Linked DNA regions of Homo sapiens: regions 1 and 2 are each linked to region 3. The links come from fine-mapping of genetic effects on gene expression. A gene starts in region 3. Each other region holds a variant in brackets. All regions are shown on one strand. Distances are between the middles of the regions. Region 1 overlaps AGTRAP (angiotensin II receptor associated protein). Region 2 overlaps DRAXIN (dorsal inhibitory axon guidance protein). Region 3 holds the start of MAD2L2 (mitotic arrest deficient 2 like 2).

Region 1 (6,076 bases), 59 kb after region 3:
ATTTAATCAAGGCAGCCTTATGAGAAAGCTGATATGGTCATCTTTTTACAGATGAGCAAACTTCAGCTTAGACTGGGTAAATTGCCAAGGTCCCACGGGGAGTAAGTGGCAATATCAGGATTTGAACCCATAGGGATCAGACTCCAGGGCCAGGTCCTTTCTGGGGTACCAGCTTAGGGCTGACTTTAACGTTGGCTGTTTCTGTCCTTTGGGAGGGCTTAGTCTCTTTGGGGCTTTTTTTGAGCAACTTTTTGGGCCTGACAGGCTAAGAGCATCCACAGGTATGAGCTATGCTGGCTTTCGGTACCCAGGATGAAAAGGCTGGTCCTCCCCTTGACTTGGCAAACGAGACCCCAGTCTCCAAGGGTGTTAGCCGCTACCAGTCAGAGACAACAAAGTGCTGGAAGGCCCTGAGGGGTCAGGGTTGTCAGGTCGTGTACAGGAGATCCAGGTGAATTTGAATTTCAGATCAACAACGAACAGTTTTTTAGTATGAGTAAGTCTCAGGCAATATGTGGGACATATTAACAAATTATTCATGATCTGATATTGGAAATTAACTGGGTGTTCTGTATTTTTGTTTGCTGGATCTGGCCACCCTGTGGAGGGCAGCTGTTGACTCCTTGCTTATAGGCACTTAGGGGATGTTCTGAGTTCAGAGCCCTTCAGGAGGTGGGGAACTGCTCCCTGTGGCCTGCACTCCCTCCCCACTCCCTCGTTTTGTATATTCCTTGGGCAAGGGCTGAGTGCCTGCTTCTGCCCAGCTCAGCCAGAGTGGGCAGTGGTGCCAGGTGAGAAGAAACAACTGCCCCAGGCCCTTTGCACAAAGGGCAGCTCCTGACCAAGCCCTGTCCATGTCTCTTGAAGCCAGGTCCTGAGCTGCAAGAATGACATTGTGATGAGCTTAGAAAGGACTGGACTAGGGTACAGAGGTCTTGTGGGAAGAAGACCTTGGGAGGAGGATCTGGTGGTCTAGGAGGTAGTCGTGTAGCATTTGGGTTAAAAACTCAGTAATGAGGACTGCTGGGATGGAGGGCTGAATTCCTCACAGGCACTGTGTGGAGCGCTTCCCACACCTCTCCACCTCCCTGTACCACTGGATCCACACAACAACACTGAATCAGGCAGTATTGCCCTTCTTTGCAGAAGAGCCAACAGCTGTTCTGAGAGGTCAGGTGACTTGCCTAAGGTCACTAGGTTCTAAAGTCATGGAGCCAGGATCAGATCCACCTGTTTGCCTCCAGTACCCACGAAGTTAACCGCTGCACAACTCTGCCTCCCATCCTTGGCAGCCCTGACTGGTGTCCCTGGGCCCCGGCCACCCTGGGGGATCTCACTAGCACGTGTAACAGGCCACCAAGTGTTTGCACAGGACTGGTAGGAGTTTATTCCATTTCTGGGAAGTCCTACCCCGCCATGGGTCCTCTAGTGGCAAACAAAGGGTTTAAGTCTTGGTCTGCATGCCCTGCTGGTTTCTCTTCAGCCTTTCCTTCTCCAGGTTAGACTTCCTCATTTCCATCTGCCCTCTACGGCTCTTCGAGATCCTGACGGTGTAGCACAGTGGACAGAGCACAGGCTTTGGGGGCAGGCAGGTCTGCATTCAAGGTCTTGAGTAGGTTTCTGTGTGACCTTGAGTAGGTTTCTGAACTCTCTCAGTATCTATTTCTTCATTGTAAAAAGAAGTTAAATACAGTCCCTACCTCCTAGGATGATGGATCCATGGTCCAGGACGTAGTCTAGAATTAGGGTTACAAATTCAGGCTGGGCCAGGCGTGGTGGCTCACACCTGTAATCCTAGCACTTTGGGAGACCCAGGCAGGTGGATCATTTGAGGTCAGGAGTTCGAGACCAGCCTGGCCAACATGATGTAACCCCACCTCTACTAAAAATACAAAAATTAGCTGGGTGTGGTGGTGCTCGCCTGTAGTCCCAGCTATTCAGGAGGTTGAGGCACCGAGGATCACTTGAACACGGGAGGCAGAGGTTGCAGTGAGCCGAGATCGCACCACTGCACTCCAGCCTGGGCGACAGAGCAAGACTCTGTCTCAAAAAAACAAACAAAAACTCTGGCTGGATAGATTGATTCTGACATTTGTGTCTGGGCTCTGTTGTTTGTAAGCTTTATGAATTGGGCCAATTTACTTAATCTCTCAGAGCCTCAGTTCTACCCCATACAGTTACACGGATGACATGAGTTAGGGGCAGTGCAGTGTAGATGCATGGCAGGCTGGTGCTTGTCAGTAGCAGGAGTTGCTGCTGTCGTTGATGATGCAGGATCCCTGCCCCACATAGGTATTTAACAGTTAGTAAACGGATACTTACAGTGACCGTCCAGATAGATGCTTGTCTCTGGCAGTTGAGGCACCCCCGTGGGACAAATGGGTACTGCCTCCGTTTCGCAGAAAGGAGCCTGAGGCCTTGGCGCCTGGACCAGCACCCAGGTTTCCTGTTCCAGCATAGCATCCTGGGACCCTCTGCTGCCTTGG[T/C]CCATTGACCCCTGTCTGGGAAAGAGCTGGGCGGCCTCCCCTGGGCTGAGCACTGTAGTGAGAGTCCAGGGGCTCAGGTCCGTCCTTCCTGCCCAGCTGGGAAAGGTCCTGGCCCTGCCACCCGTTTAGCTCAGGTTCCTTCCCTGCTTCCAGCTCCTCTTTCAGGCCATACCTGAGAATCCTGTGTCTCTTTGGCTACCAGGAAGCTCCCCCAGGGCCAAAAGACAGTGGTTTTGTCCTGACAGTTACTGGCCCCTCTTTCCCTGGGCTGCCAGGAAGTGCAGGGCCCGTTTGGCTCAGTTTCTCCCTGGAGTCTTCCTGCACATTAAGGCCTCTCTGGGTGTCCTCCTGTTACACAGATGAAGAAACTGAGGCAGGGGAGGCTTAGGCTTCTGGACGTTTCTTTTCCCAGGGGCTTAAGAGGAGCAACTGGTGCTAACTTTGTTCATATTTATCAAACCAAAGTGACGTCACGCAGAGGAGACTGTGTGTGTGCTAAGGATCTGCAGTATTTCCAGGTTACGTTGTTTTCTTCCCTAACAGAGATGGCAGAGGTGTGGGCCCAGCTGGGTGCTCACTCTGTATTACAGGCCCTTCCAGCGCTAGGAAAAGCCTTTACCTCATAGGTTGTAAGCATGACCCTTAGGGTATCCTGCGGATCAGAGGCCCCCCTGGGACTCAGCCTTTCATGCTAACTGCCATTCTTTCCGGAATAATCCAGGGCTCTGCAGGGCCCATTTATTAAAGACCTACTCTGTGTACAGTCTAGGCATAGGAGCGAGAGCATTGAAAATGAAGATCATTTCCAAAACAAGCCCAGAGTGGGAAGAGTTAGGTGTCGATTTTGGGGAGGAAAGGGGTGATGGGAGCTACCTTCCCTCTGTCTCTTTCCTCGGTGTCTTCTTTAAAAGCTGGATGTTGGGACCACTGTGGCTGACTCTGCGGTGTGGCCCTGAGCAAGTTCCTTCCTGTCTGTGGTCCAGGGTTTACTATCAGATGGAGGGGACAGTGGTTAGCTCTGAAGATAAAGATCAGAATCGTCCTCATGCCCAGCCCTGCCTGCCCCCAACTTCCTGTCCCTCCCTCCTCCACTCCCCTCACCTTCCACTCCAGCCACACTGGCTTCTGTTCAGTTTCCAGAAAGTTCCACGCCCCCCTTCTGCCACAGAGCCTTTGTGAGTGCCGCCCCTCCTGCTCAAAATGCTCTTCTTCCCCCTCAGCCTCCCCCATCCCTTCCTCAGAGAAGCCCCTGACCACCCCAACCCTCCCAGCCTCCCTGCTGTTCAATCAGGTGCCCTTTCCCTTGCTTTCCTTCAGGATGCTTTCCTTCAATCAGGTGCTTTCCTTCGGGATGAGGGTTCACTGCACCTCCATTCCTAGGGCAGAGTACCTGGTTAGCGAGGTCAGTACTGAGAGCGCAGCTCCGAATCTGCTCTGCACACCTCTGACTCCCCAGGGTGAATGAAAAGCAGGTGCCAGTGATGCTGGGTGACACTAAATGTTTAAGAAACTTAACACCGTTTATCACTTCAAGCCCCTGGGGATTGAAATCCATGGAAGACTACACCTCTCTTGCCTCAGTTTCCCCATCTTTGTAATGGGGAGAGGCCTAATGGCTGGACAGCACAGCCTGGGTTTGAGTCCTGGCTCTGCCACTGGCCTGCTCTGTGACCTTGGGCAAGTTACTTCCTTCTGAGCCTCAGTTTTCTCAGCTGTAAAATGGGGATAATAAGACCTCAGAGGATTGTAAGGATTTAGTGCATTTATATACAGAAAGCACTTAGAATGGCACCTAGCACATAGGAAGCGCTCAATAGTAGACGAAGGTAGGTGAGGTGATGGCGAAGATTCCTTCTAGAGCTAGACTTCTGTAACACACTACTCAGCCTGGTCAGAGTCTCGAGATCTTAAAGTTGGGTGCATCGGTCCTTACAGAATTATTTTCCTAGTCTCTTGGAGCTGAGAAAGGAATTTCTTTTGGGCCACAGAGCCAGGCCCCTTGTGGTTCACTCTGGCCCTGGGCCCTGGAGGTAAAGGTGAAGTATCTCAGCCACCAGCTCTGGATTCCATCTGCCCCCATGTGTGGACCTTTCTCACAAGCCCAAACAGTTCCCAGCTGAAGGCCTGCGCCCCCAGCGGGGAGGTTGGGTGCACTGGTTTTGGAGGCGAGTTTGAAATTTAATTCCAGTTTTGCCACTTGCTACCTGTGGAGTCTTGATCAACATAATTTATCTCTGAGTCTGGTTTTCTCATCTGTGAAATGGGAATAATAGTACCAGAGGCTGCTGTGAGGTCCAGATAAGGTCATGTGAGACGGTTGGCATAGGGCCTGGCACATAGTTGGTGTGTGGTCAAGAGTAACTCTTCTAGAAATGCTTTTTCCTCTGCTGCCAGAGTGAGTTTGTCTGTCTTTCTTTTCTGTCCTTTCTTTCCCTTCTTTCCCTTCCTTCGTTCCTTCCTTCCTTCCTTCCTTCTTTCCTTCCTTTTCTTTCTTTTTCTTTCTTTCTTCCTTCTCTTTCTCTCTTTCTTTCTTTTCTTTCTTTCCTTACTTTCTCTTTCTGGCAGGATCTTGCTCTGTCCCCCAGGCTGTAGTGCAGTGGCATGATCTTGGCTCACTGTACACTTGACCTCACTGGCTCAAGTGATTCTCCCACCTCAGCCTCCCAGGTAGCTGGGGCTATAGATGTACTCCACCATACCTGGCTAATTTTTTGATTTTTTGTAGAGATAGGATCTTACTTTGTTAGCCAGGTTGTTCTCGAACTCCTGGGCTCAAGCAGTCTTCTCCCTCCACCTCCTAAAGTGTTGGGATTACAGGCGTGAGCCACCAGACCTGGCCCACAGTTCTTTTTTGCAGGTGGTGAGGGCTCCTTCTGCCCTTCCACCCAGGCCAGAAACCCCGGCCTTCTTCGCAAACCTTGCCCATGTCTGCGCCAGGACACTGCCTCTGCCCCAGGCATGTGGCATCTCTCCCTTCCAGCCTGACCCCTCAATCCCTTGAGTAAACTTCTAGGGCCCTCATTGACCACCAGGCCCGTTGAAGCTCCCAATTTGGGGCTCCTGGCCTCCCAAAGTCTCTGTGCCACCCCACCCCGACCTCAGTTATCTCCATGCCCACCGCCACCCATGCAGGGCCTGGGGCTTGGCCCCACTTTGCCTGGCCGAGCCCCGCTCATACATTGTGCTCAGCCTGGGTCCCTTCCCTTTGGAAGCTCTTTCTGCAGCTGCCTGCCCTCCCAAGGCATCTGTCTTTTCTTTTCTTTTTTTTTTTTTGAGATGGAGTCTCACTCTGTCACCCAAGCTGGAGTGCTGTGGCCCATTTTGGGCTCACTGCAACCTCTGCCTCCCAGGTTCAAGTAATTTTCGTGCCTCAACTTCCGGAGTAGCTGGGATTACAGGTGCCCACCACCATGCCCAGCTAATTTTTGTCTTTTTAGTAGAGACAGGGTTTCGCCATGTTAGCCAGGCTGGTCTCGAACTCCTGACCTCAAGTGATCCACCTGCCTTGGCCTCCCACAGTGCTGGGATTACAGGGGTGAGCCACCGCGCCCAGCCCATCTGCCCTTTTTCTTTCTTTCCTTTTTTTTTTT
Region 2 (6,141 bases), 38 kb after region 3:
AAGCCAACTGGGGCACAGAAAGCTTAATGATGCCCAAACTTACACAGCCAGGAAAGTGGGGGGAATAGTTTCAGGTTTTTGTTTTGTTTTGACAGGTTTTACTCTGTCACCCAGGCTGGAGTGCAGCAGTGCAGTTTTGGCTCACTGCAACCTCTGCTTCCCAGGCTTAGGTGATCCTCCCATCCCAGCCCTGCAGGTAGCTCTGACTACAGGCGCATGCCACCAGCCCAGCTAATTTTTGTATTTCTGGTAGAGGCAGAGTTTTGCCATGTTCCCTAGGCTGGTTTCAAACTCCTGACCTCAAGCGATCCACCTGTCTTGGCCTCCCAAAGTTCTGGGATTACAGGCATGAGCCACCACACCCAGCCAGTTTCAATTTTGTATTCTGCAAAGTTTCAAATATATACTAAAGTAGTTAGAATAGTCTAATGAGCGCCCATTTCTCATCACTCTGCTTCAATACCAACTCACGGCCAATCTGTGTCTATCATCTCTCACACACTTTCCTTATTCCGACATGATTTCTAAGCAACTCCTGGGAGCTTACAGGTATTTCACCTGTGAATATTTTAGTGTGTACCTCTGAAAGACAAGTACTCTTTTAAAAACAAAATGCCAAACATGAACGATAATTAATCAGTTCCATCCAATATCAAATCAGCATTCACACATCTCCTGGATGGGGGAATTGGGGCTCAGCCCCTCTGTGGACCTGAGATACATGCCCCGTTTTGCTCATATTAGCCTCAGAGAGTTATCTACCATGATCGTGCCACTGCACTCCGGCCTGGATGATGGAGCGAGACCCTGTCTTAAAAATGATGATAATACATCTTTTTCTTCCCAATTTTTAAAATTGTGGACTTTTAAATTTAATTTAATTATTTTTTGAGACAGGGTTTCACTCTGTCACCCAGGCTGGAGTGCAGTGGCGCAATCCCAGCTCTCTGTAGCTTTAACTCCCGGGCTCAAGGGATCCTCCCGCCTCGGCAATAAAGCTATGTAGTTCTGATTATTCACTCATCTAATCAGTTAAATATTTAGGGAGCACCTACTGCGTATCAGACATTGCTCTGGACACTGGGGGGTTCAGTAGTGAAAAGAACCAGCAAGTTCTGTGCCCATGAATTACATTCTAGTGATATGAGCAGACAACAATCAAATACATAGATAGTATGTCTTTAGAAAATAATAAGGGCTATGGCCGAGCATGGTGGCTCATGCCTGTAATCCTAGCACTTTGGGAGGCCGAGGCAGGAGGATCACTTGAGGTCAGGAGTGAGACCAGCCTGGCCAACATGGTGAAACCCTGTCTCTACTAAAAATACAAAAATTAGATGGGCATGGTGGCACTTGCCTGTAATTCCAGCTACTCGGGAGCCTGAGGCATGAGAATCGCTTGAACCCGGGAGGCAGAGATTGCAGTGAGCCGAGATCCTGCCATTGCACTCCAGCCTGGGTGACTGAGTGAGACTCTGTCTCAAAAAGAAAAAAAAAGTAAGTAATAAGGGCTATAAAGATAATAATATGATAATGAGTCCTACAGTTGTTTTAGAAAGGGTAGACAGAAGTGGGCATTGGAGGCCAGGGGAGTGGTTCATGCCTGTAATCTCAGCACTTTGGGAGGCCAAGGCGGGCAGATCATGAGGTCAGGAGTTTGAGACCAGCCTGACCAACATGGTGAAATCCCATCTCTACTAAAAATACAAAAATTAGCCGGGTGTGGTGACGCGCACCTGTAATCCCAGCTACTCAGGAGGCTGAGGCAGGAGAATCTCTTGAAACCAGGAGGCGGAGGTTGCAGTGAGCTGAGATCGTGCCTCTGCACTCCAGCCTGGGCAACAGAGAGAGACTCCGTCTCAAAAAAAAAAAAAGAAAGGGTAGACAGAAGTGGGCATTGGAGGCCAGGCGGGGTGGTTCATGCCTGTAATCCCAGCATTTTGGGAGGCCAAGGCAGGTGGATCCTTGAGCCCGGAGTTGGAGACCAGCCTTGGCAAGGTAGAGAGACACTGTCTCTACCAAAAATACAAAAAAAAAAAAAAAAATTAGCCGGGTGTGGTGGCGCACACCCATAGTACCAGCTACTTGGGAGGCTGAAGTGGGGAGGATCACTTGAGCCCAGGAGGCAGAGATTGCAGTGAGCCGAGATCTTGCCATGCCACTGCACTCCAGTCCAGGCAACAGAGCAAGACCCTGTCTCAAAAAAAAAAAAAAAAAGGGAGGCCCGGCACGGTGGCTCATGCCTGTAATCCCATCACTTTGGGAGGCGGAGGTGGGCAGATCACTTGAGGCCAGGAGTTCAAGACCAGCCTGGCCAACATGGTGAAACCCCATCTCTGCTAAAAAAAAAAAAAAAAAATACAAAATTAGCTGGGTGTGGTGGCGCATGCCTGTAATCCCAGCTACTCGAGAGGCTGAGGCAGGAGAATCACTTGAACCCAGGAGGCAGAGGTTTCATAAGCCAAGATGGTGCCGCTGCACTCCAGCCTGGGTGACAAGAGCAAAACTCCATCTCAAAAAAAAAAAAAAAAAAAGCAATGGCTCTCCATAGGATGTTTTACAGGGAAGGGCAGAATTTGAGCCACTTAAAAAAAAATTTAATAACCTTTTTCCTTTCCAATTTTCAAGATTATAGACTTTTTAATTGAATTTATCTGTGTATTTTATTTTTTAATTTTTTTGAGACAGAGTCTCACTCTGTTACCCAGGCTGAACTACAGTGGTGCAACCAAGGCGCACTGCAGCCTGGAACTCCTGGGCTCAAAGGATCCTCTCATGTTAGCCCCTCCTTCCTATAGTTGGGACTACAGGTGTATGCCACAATGCCTGGCTAATTTTTACATTTTTTGTAGAGATAGGGTCTCCCTATGTTGCTTAGGCTGGTCTGGAACTACTGGGCTCAAGCGATCCTCCCACCTCAGCCTCTCAAAGTGCTGGGATTACGGGTGTGAGCCACCGTACCCTGTGGACTTTATTTTTAGAGCAGTTTTCTAGAAAAATTTCACAGAATGTGGTTCTCATATACCTGCTTTGCCCCTGCATGCAGTTTCTCCTATTAATAACATCTTGCAATCATGTGGTAGATTTGTTTGTTTGTTTGTTTGTTTGTTTGTTTTCTGAGAGGGAGTCTAGCTCTGTCGCCCCAGCTGGAGTGCAGTGGCATGATCTTGGCTCACTGCAAGCTCCACCTCCCGGGTTCATGTGATTCTCCTGCCTCAGCCTCCCAAGTAACGGGGATTACAGGCACCCACCACCATGCCCGGGTAGTTTTTGTATTTTTTTAAGTAGAGACGGGGTTTCACCATGTTGGCCAGGCTGGTCTCAAACTCCTGACCTCAAGTGATCCACCTGCCTCGGCCTTACAAAGCGCTGGGATTATAGGCGTGAGCCACCGTGCCCGGCCTCTCTTGGTACATTTGTTGCTTGACAAACCAATAGTGATGTATTATTATTACTAACTGAAGTCAACGTAAGTTATAGTTCACTGTGCGGTGCATTCTGTGGGTTTTGACAAATGCATGCCATGTCCCACCATTACGTGTCACACAGAATATGTTCACCGCCCCGACCGCCCTGAGTCTTCTCTGTTCTCCTTCCGTGTTCATTCCTCCCCTCTTCCGGGTTCGTGTCTTTTAAGCTCA[T/C]TGGGGCTGCCGTGAGGAAGCTGGGTTGTAGGGCAGAATAATGAAGGCAGGAGGGAGCTGGCTGGCCCCGAGCGTGCAGGGGAAGGAAGGGGAGGGCACGGGCCCTTCGCGCCTCTGACCCCCCTTGCCTCCACTCGCCCAGGGCTGCGCTGCTATGCCAAATTCCACCGGAACCGCAGGGTTACACGGAGGAAAGGGCGCTGTGTGGAGCCCGAGACGGCCAACGGCGACCAGGGATCCTTCATCAACGTCTAGCGGCCCCGCGGGACTGGGGACTGAGCCCAGGAGGTTTGCACAAGCCGGGCGATTTGTTTGTAACTAGCAGTGGGAGATCAAGTTGGGGAACAGATGGCTGAGGCTGCAGACTCAGGCCCAGGACACTCAACCCCAGGAGGGGAGCCGCTCGGCGAATGAGCTGGGTGGGTGCCCAGGAGCCGGCCCGCAGCACCTGCACACACGAAGTCCGGACCCACGCAGCCTCCATCCCGCGTGTCTTGCTCTCCGCGATGGCAATGCCGAGAGTGCCCTCTACTGTCCGACTCCAGCACTGCAACAGCTTCAAGTTCAAAACCAAGAGGCGTTTTTGAGAGTGGAAAAGAAATTTAAACTTCCCGAAAGAAGGTCCACCATCAGGAGATGAATATGGAACATCTCCTATGTACCAGGCACTGTGCTAAGTGCTGGAATACATTATCTCATTGAATTATCACAACGACCTTTTCAAGTAGGCATTATCACCATGCGACAGGTTGAGGACCGTGAGGCACGCTGGAGTTATTTGACTCGACTTGCCCAGGGTCCCAGGTCAGTGCTCCTCAAACCTGAACATGCTAAGAGTCACCTGGAGGTCCAGTTAAAAATGTACATCTGGCCGGGCGCGGCGGCTCACGCTTGTAATCCCAGCACTTTGGGAGGCCAAGGCGGGTGGCTCACCTGAGGTCAGGAGTTCGAGACCAGCCTGGCCAACATGGGGAAACCCCGTCTCTATTAAAAATACAAAAATTAGGCCAGGCGCGGTGGTGCACACCTGTAATCCCAGCTACTCGGAGGCTGAGGCACCAGAATCGCTTGAACTTGGGAGGCAGAGGTTGCAGTGAGCAGAGATCGTGCCACTGCACTCCAGCCTGGGGGACAAGAGTGAAACTCCATCTCAAAAAAAAAAAAAAAAAAAAGCACATCTGACTCAGTGGGCTCTGTGCTCTAACAAGCTCCCAGGGAACGCGAGGCTGCTGGCCCAGGGACCCACTGAGAGGTCCTGGGAAGTACATGGCAGAGCAAGGACATGAACCTGGGCCAAGGCTGTCCAGCTCCAAGGCCCACGTTCTTGCTGCTCCACAGCCAAGAATTTCTTCCAGATTCTCTAAGGCTTTTGGCAAGAGAGGCTCACACCCTGGTATTCCCTTCCTCTGTGGCTGGAATAACTTGACTGTTCTCTGCCTTCCCTGGATAAAGGTGTATCATGTTTAAAAACAAAACAAAATACAACTTAAGCACATACTTGCTTGCAGGAATAAGTTGGGCAGGTTGATCCCTGTGGTCTAGTAGCTGATATCCTGGGATAAGAAGTGTTTGGGGAAAAGAATCATGTTGGCCTTTATGTCCCTGTGGTCCTGATCATCCAGTCCTGGACAGGCACTTTACAGTTTTCTGGAGCACTTCCCCCCCAGGGGTTCTGATGCAAGCATGGAATCCAAAAAAACCCCACACATATTGCCCATGTTTACCCACTTTGCATACTGTTTAGTGATTTCCAGGACCACAAAACCATCCCTGGAACCCCACCCCACATTTTTGCAGCAGAGCCCACTGGGAAGTTGAGGCTCACCTGAAATTGAGGTGCTATCTGAAGCTAACTGCCCCTAACAGGCCAGACTCACAATGCCCACCCAGGACATCTGTCCCAGCAGATCTGGCTTCAGGGGTCACTTCAGGAGAACCATTTAAATCCCCCCACTTGGCATCTCACTCCTGGCCAACCCTCTGTTCCAGGGCGAACCAGGTTGCAAATGACAAAAGACTTTCCTGGCCAAATTCCTCACTGGCCTGGATCACGCCCATAAGATGCCAGAGATGTTTACTGCGTTGGAAAAATCAGTCGGGGTCAGGGGTCAGGCACCAAGGAAAGCAGGCAGATCTAGAAGAAATTAAATATGCTTGTTCTCTCCCTATCCAAGTTTGATGGGCATGGGAACCTTGTGGGGAGGGAGCAGGGAGGGCAGGGGAACTGGGAGATCAAAGCAGGCTAGCTGAAAGGCAGATATGGCTAGACACAATGGCTCATGCCTGTAATCCCAGCACTTTGGGAGGCTGAGGTGGGCGGACCACCTCAGGTCAGGAGTTTGAGACCAGCCTGGCCAACATGGCAAAACCCGGTCTCTACCAAATATACAAAAATTAAGGCTGGGCACGAGGGCTCATGTCTGACATCCCAGCACTCTGGGAGGCCGAGGTAGGCAGATCACTTGAAGTAAGGCGTTCGAGAACAGCCTGACCAACATGG
Region 3 (6,107 bases):
ACTTATCCATAGAGAAAGAAGTTAGAAGATAAGAACTCAGGCTGGGCACAGTGGCTCACTCCTCTAATCCCAGCACTTTGAGAGGATGAGGTGGGTGGATCACCTGAGGTCAGGAGTTTGAGACCAGCCTGGCCAAAATGGCAAAACCCCATCTCTACTAAAAATACAAAAATTAGCCAGGTGAGGTGGCACCTGTAATCCCAGCTACTTGGGAGGCTGAGGCAGGAGAATCACTTGAACCTGGGAGGCGGAGGTTGCAGTGAGCTGAGATCAAGCCACTGCACTCCAGCTTGGGCAACAAAGCAAGACTCCATCTCAAAGGAAAAGAAAGATAAGAACTCAATCCCAATATGAGCATTTAATATACCATTAGGGGTTCTTAATGTGGGGTCCATGGACTCCTCCAGAGTCTGAAAAATCCCTAAAGTTGTATCTTTGTGCACTTGGGCATTTTTCCAGAAAAAGGATCCAGGAAAATGTAATCAGATGTCAAAAGTTAAGAACTAAGGAACTGTGTGGCCTCAGGCAAATTCCTTAACTTCTCTGGGCTTCAATCACTTCATCATAAAGAAGAAGTGAGTAAATGTCAATTGTTTTTTCCTTTCCCCTCTAAAGGTGACCTTCAACTTACTATGGGTTTATGTTTGGATAAACCAATCAAATATCGCCAGCGGAAAATGCAGTTAATACACATAACATACAGAACATCATAGCTTAGCCAGGCCTACCTAAACACACTCAAAACACATTAGCCCACAGTTGGGCAACATTATCTAACACAAAACCTGTTTCATAATAAAGTGCTCACGCCTGTAATCCCAGCACTTTGGGAGGCCAAGGCAGGTGGATCACCAGAGGTCAGGAGATCGAGACCAGCCTGGCCAACACGGCGAAACCTTGTCTCTACTAAAAATACAAAAATTAGCCAGATGTGGTGGCACACGCCTGTAATCCCAGCTACTCGGGAGGCTGAGGCAGGAGAATCACTTGAACCCAGGAGGTGGAGGTTGCAGTGAGCCAAGATCACGCCACTGCACTCCAGCCAGGGCGACAGAGCGAGACTCAGTCTCAAAAAATAAAATAAAATAAAATATAAAATAAAAAATAAAGTGCTGACTACCTCAAGTAATGTCTTGAATACCATACTGGAAGTGAGAAAACAATGGTGGTGTGGGGACTTGAAGCGGGGACCACCTGGATGTCCTTTGAGCTTCTACCACTTATTCTCATGTTTCCTGAGTGCCTTCCAGAGACAGGCACTTCTAGGGACTGGAGCTACAGTGCGATGCACACTGCTTTGTCTGCCTTTTAGCCTTAACCCATTGAGTTTAGGATAAATGGTAGGGAGAAGATTTGGAGGTTTTTGGAAATACCCTCCTCACACCAAGGTTCACCAGCTTCACGAGCTCCTTCAAAGTGCCACCATGCCCCCAGGGTAACTTTTTTTTTTGGAGACATAGTCTTGCTCTGTCGCCCAGGCTGGAGTGCAGTGGCACGATCTGGGCTTACTTCAACCTCTGCATCCCGGGTTCAAGCGAGTCTCCTGCCTCAGCCTCCCTAGTAACTGGGATTACAGGCGCGTACCACCACACCAGGCTAATTTTTGTATTTTTAGTAGAGACAGGATCTCATCATGTTGGTCAGGCTGGTTTCTTGAACTCCTGACCTTGTGATTCGCCCGCCTCAGCCTCCCAAAGTGCTGGGATTACAGGTGTGAGCCACCATGCCCGGCCACCCCCGGGGTAACTCTTATCAGGCCTGGTCCCTAACTTCTGGCAAGGGGAACTCTCTTCTGAGGGGTGGGTAGGCATCACCACTTTGGAACTGGAAGGCATTGGAAGGCATGGGCAGGGCCCTGCGGAATGAGGTGGCTTGGCCCGAAGTGGAAGAGGTTTTTTTTTTTTTTTTTTTTTTTTTTTGAGACGGAGTTTCGCTCTTGTCACCCAGGCTGGAATGCAGTGGCACAATTTCGGCTCACTGCAACCTCCGCCTCCTGGGTTCAAGGGATTCTCCTGCCTCAGCCTCCTGAGTAGCTGGGATTACAGGCCTTGGCCACCACGCCCGGCTAATTTTTGTATTTTTAGTAGAGACGGGGTTTCACCATGTTTGTCAGGCTGGTCTCGAACTCCTGACCTCAGGTGATCCGCCCGCCTCGGCCTCCCAAAGTGCTAGGATTACAGGCGTGAGCCACGGCGCCCGACCAAAGAATTTTTAAAAGTCCACCCTGTACCCACTCTGTGGTTCTGGGACGTGCCTCACCTGGACCGGCACGTTGTACTTCTTGCGTTTCTGGAAGATGCCCACGGGGTAGACCTCGCGCACGTAGAGGATGAGATGCACAGCCACCTCCAGGAACTCGCAGAGCACATCGGCCACCACTGCAGGGGGGCACAAGCCGGTGGCGCGCTCGAGGAAGCCCGCCGGCCCAGACGCCCCCGCCCCCGGGCCCGCAGGTCCAGCCTCCCTACCTTGGCCAAAGTTGAGGTCTTGTCGTGTGAGCGTGGTCATCCTTCCCGCTACCTGAGTGTTGGGGCAAGGGCAGAGGGTAGTTCCAGAGACCCAGGAGCCCAGAACCCGCTCGCTTCCACCGTCTCTTCCCTCCCCACAGTCTGTGGGAACTGGGGAAGGACCTCCCGCTTCGCACAGGCTCAGGGCAGCTGGAAGAACCTCCACCCCCACGCTGGCGTCCGTGCTTGGGGGCATCAGCCTCTATCCACTGGCCGCCCGCGCCCCCTCGCCCCGCTGTCTCGCGGGGTGGAAAGACCACAGCTGTGCCCCCGAAAAGGGCAGGGCCGCGGACGCAGAGGGAAACAGCGGGATGCCCAGGGCCGGGAGCGCAAAGCGGGACATGCGGAAAGCGAAGCGGGGTTGGAATAAGACTCCGCCCCCTGCTACGCCGGATCCCTCCCGGCGGGAATCCCGCCCCCTCTCCCCTCCCCCAGTACCGGCTCTGCGCTCGGTTCCCGCCCGAGATCGGGCCCGGCCCCGCCGCGGGGAGCCACCGACCGGACCGATCGCGCCTCCCGCTCAACCCGGGGCCTCGGCGCCGCTCGGTGACGTTCACGGCGCTCCGGTGGGTCCTAGCGCCCGCCCCGCCCAGGCCACGCCCATTCCCGCACGGCCCAAACCGGGCCTCGCAGAGGGCGGTTCCGCATGCGGGGGCGGGTCTCCGAGGGGCGGGGGCCGGGCCTCGGCGTCCGGGAGGGGCTGAGACCCGCCGCGCCACCTCCCTTCAACTTCGGGTGGGCGCGAAGAAAACACAACGTTGATCTCCACGTTCCATTGGATCGCTACATATCTTCCCCCGAGGGCATTTCTCTCGCTTTAGCAGGCGCCGGAAGAGGGCTGGGGAGGGACGGGGGAGCGCGCAGCTGGGGACTAACGGCAGCCACATCTGAGCTAGCCCGAGTCACCATCCCTGCAGCTGCCCACGCAAAAGCGAATCCTCTGGCTCGGGGGCGGGAACAGGGGAGGACAGGATTGTACCGGTTGTCAAGGCCCGGGTGAAATTTTAAAAATAAAAAAAAGAGGGCGTGCACCGGCGTCGCCCCTGCTCCGCCCCCACCGGGTACCTAAATGCAGCCTGGCCTGACCGCCCAAGAGGATGAACCCTCCCCGCCCTACGCTTCATAACAATAGCTGACCTTTTTGGAGCTCCAGCCGAGTGCTGGGCACTGGGCTAAGTGTGTCCGTGGATTATCTCAGTCCTGGGAGTAACTCCATGAGGCAGTTACTGTGACTGTTCTCTTTATACAGATAAGTCAAGCGAGGTGCAGAAGGGTGAATAACCTGCCCGAGTCTCCCAGCTGGTGGGGTGGGCGATGGCCGAGGTGCCTCCTGCCACTACATTTTACTGCTCCCAAGTCCCCCAGGGGCGTGGACTCGGTCTGGAAGTCCTGTAAGGGCCCTCAGAGATGATATTACTAAAATAATAAAAAATAATGACTAACATCGAGCACTTCTTATGTGTCAAACACTGATTCCGTTAATTCTCTCATTAACCCTAGCAGCTAAGTCTCCATTTTATAGCCCCACTTTACAGATGGTTAAACAGGCCCAGAAACGTTCTCTAATTCGCCAAAATCACACAGTGGGAATACAAACCCAGCTCTGATGCCTCTTCTGACACCAGGGCTTCCACTTATTTACAGCCCCCTTATTTTACAAGTGAGAAAACTAAGATCTGAGAAGCAGCTACGGAGTTAGTGGGCAACAAGTCAGGACCAGAAGCCAAGAGGACTTTGTCTGTGACCTCCAGGGACGTAAGAGCTTGTTAGTCCCATCCGTCTGTTTGGACACAGATCTAGCCAGACTTGTTTATCGTTTACAGCTCATTATAGAAGACCTGGATCCCTCCCCCCGCCCCCTGATGCCTTCAAACCTGCATTTCCAGACTTCTAATGGGGAGAGAAAAAGTAACCTGTAAGTAACCCATTAAGCTAGGAATGTCAGCAAAACATTTCTTCAAATGCAGTCCTAGGAAATCTGCATCAGAATCCCCCAGGAGCCCATTAATCACAGCTGCCCTGCTGCCTAGAGCAACCTGATCGAGGTGGGGTGCACAGCAGGGCACTGGCCCTTTAACAAGCTCCCCAGGGGCCCGGATGCCCAGCAAAGTGTGGGAATCACCACAGAGGTTTGGACTGTTCCCAGAGAATATCTTCATTTTGTAAAAATGCGATGCATTTTGTAAAATTGTGATGTAAAATCATCCATCCAAAGGGATGGATGATTTTGTTTTAGGAACTGGTGCACTTGGCAGCACATTCTGGGCACAGCAACCATTCTCAAGATATGGGGATCCTGCACACATCATGCCATTTCCACACAGAGCTGGCCAAGCAACTCACTGGCTTATACACAGAGTTCCGTGGCTCCTTGAGACTGACTCATTGCAGAACTTGGGAAAAGCAAGGGTCTTTCCTTTCCCTCTCTGGAGGCTGCTTAAGCAGCTTTTGCATTGGTGACAGGCAGTGGCAGTCATAGGGGGCAACTCCTTGCAAAGGAGCCCTTCAGACTGGGGCCTGGGGTGGGGAAACTGAGAGCCAAGTGACTCCTGTGGGATGGCCTTCAGGACACAGTGTGAGGGGCATTGGGGCTCAAGTCAGGCCCTCCCTCCATGAGCTCCCAGCCCCAGCCCTCTGCCCTGAGAAAACACAATACGAGCCACCCGTAGAACTCCTGACACACAGAGCTAAGAACGTCAGAAAAACCTTGGAGGACATAAACTCAACTGTCATTTTTCCTTGGGGAAACTGAGGTCCCAACAGCTCTTGACACTGGAGTACCCACCCTGTCAACTAGAAACCTGTGGATAAAAATATCTGGGTTTGCAAATATCATATGTTCTCACTTGTAAGTGGGAGTTAACCTATGAGGATGCAAAGGCATAGGAATGATATATTGGACTTTGGGGACTCGGGGGGAAGGAAGGGTGGGAAGGTGAGGGAAGGGTGGGAAGGTGAGGGACAAAAGACTACATACTGGGTACAGTGTACACTGCTGAGGTGATGGATGCACCAAAATCTCAGCAGTCACCACTAAATAACTTACCCATGTAACCAAAAATTATTGCAATTAAAAAAAAACGTCAGCTGGGCACGGTGGGTGGCTCACGCCTGTAATCCCAGCACTTTGGGAGGCTGAGGCTGGTGGATCACCTGAGGTCAGGAGTTTGAGATCAACCTGACCAACATGGAGAAACCCCATCTCTACTAAAAATACAAAATTAGCCAGGTGTGGTGGCGCATGCCTGTAATCCCAGCTACTCAGGAGGCTGAGGCAGGACAGTCACTTGAACCCGGGAGGCGGAGGTTGTGGTGAGCCAAGATCGCACCATTGCACTCCAGCCTGGGCAACAAGAGCGAGAACTCCATCTCAAAAAAACAAAAAAAGTCTGGGTTTGGGGCCTTGGGTTCAGATCCAATCACAAACAGAAGGAAGGTGGGTTAGGAAGCAGATGGGGAGGGATTCAAACCCATCTGACCCCAAACCCCTAAAAGGCTTCAGTCTCATTAGTGAAATGAACAGGCCAGATAGATGTTCCCTAAACCTCTGATGGCCTCAGGTTCCATGGGGGCGGGGGCAGGGGCAGGGGGCCGAGTCAG

What was found. PIP is the estimated chance that this variant, and not a neighbour inherited with it, causes the effect.
Region 1: its variant is fine-mapped to the expression of MAD2L2 in whole blood (TOPMed, PIP above 0.99).
Region 2: its variant is fine-mapped to the expression of MAD2L2 in whole blood (TOPMed, PIP above 0.99). The same link has a PIP of 0.9 or more in blood mononuclear cells.

What each region holds. Positions count from the first base shown.
Region 1 is chr1:11,737,505-11,743,580 of GRCh38, forward strand. All of the region lies in intron 1 of AGTRAP (angiotensin II receptor associated protein), which reads left to right. Among named protein-coding and RNA genes, the nearest start is that of AGTRAP, 4.4 kb to the left of the region's middle. The variant T/C (reference allele first, on the strand shown) is at 2,487.
Region 2 is chr1:11,715,801-11,721,941 of GRCh38, forward strand. It overlaps DRAXIN (dorsal inhibitory axon guidance protein), which reads left to right. Exons shown (of 7, transcript NM_198545.4): 7 at 3,784-6,141. The coding sequence ends at 3,896. Among named protein-coding and RNA genes, the nearest start is that of AGTRAP, 17 kb to the right of the region's middle. RefSeq lists an enhancer at 3,944-4,013. The variant T/C (reference allele first, on the strand shown) is at 3,642.
Region 3 is chr1:11,678,094-11,684,200 of GRCh38, forward strand. It overlaps MAD2L2 (mitotic arrest deficient 2 like 2), which reads right to left and starts at 3,055. Exons shown (of 9, transcript NM_006341.4): 1 at 2,946-3,055; 2 at 2,469-2,520; 3 at 2,260-2,378. The coding sequence starts at 2,508. RefSeq lists silencers at 2,377-2,436, 2,877-3,396 and an enhancer at 5,020-5,601.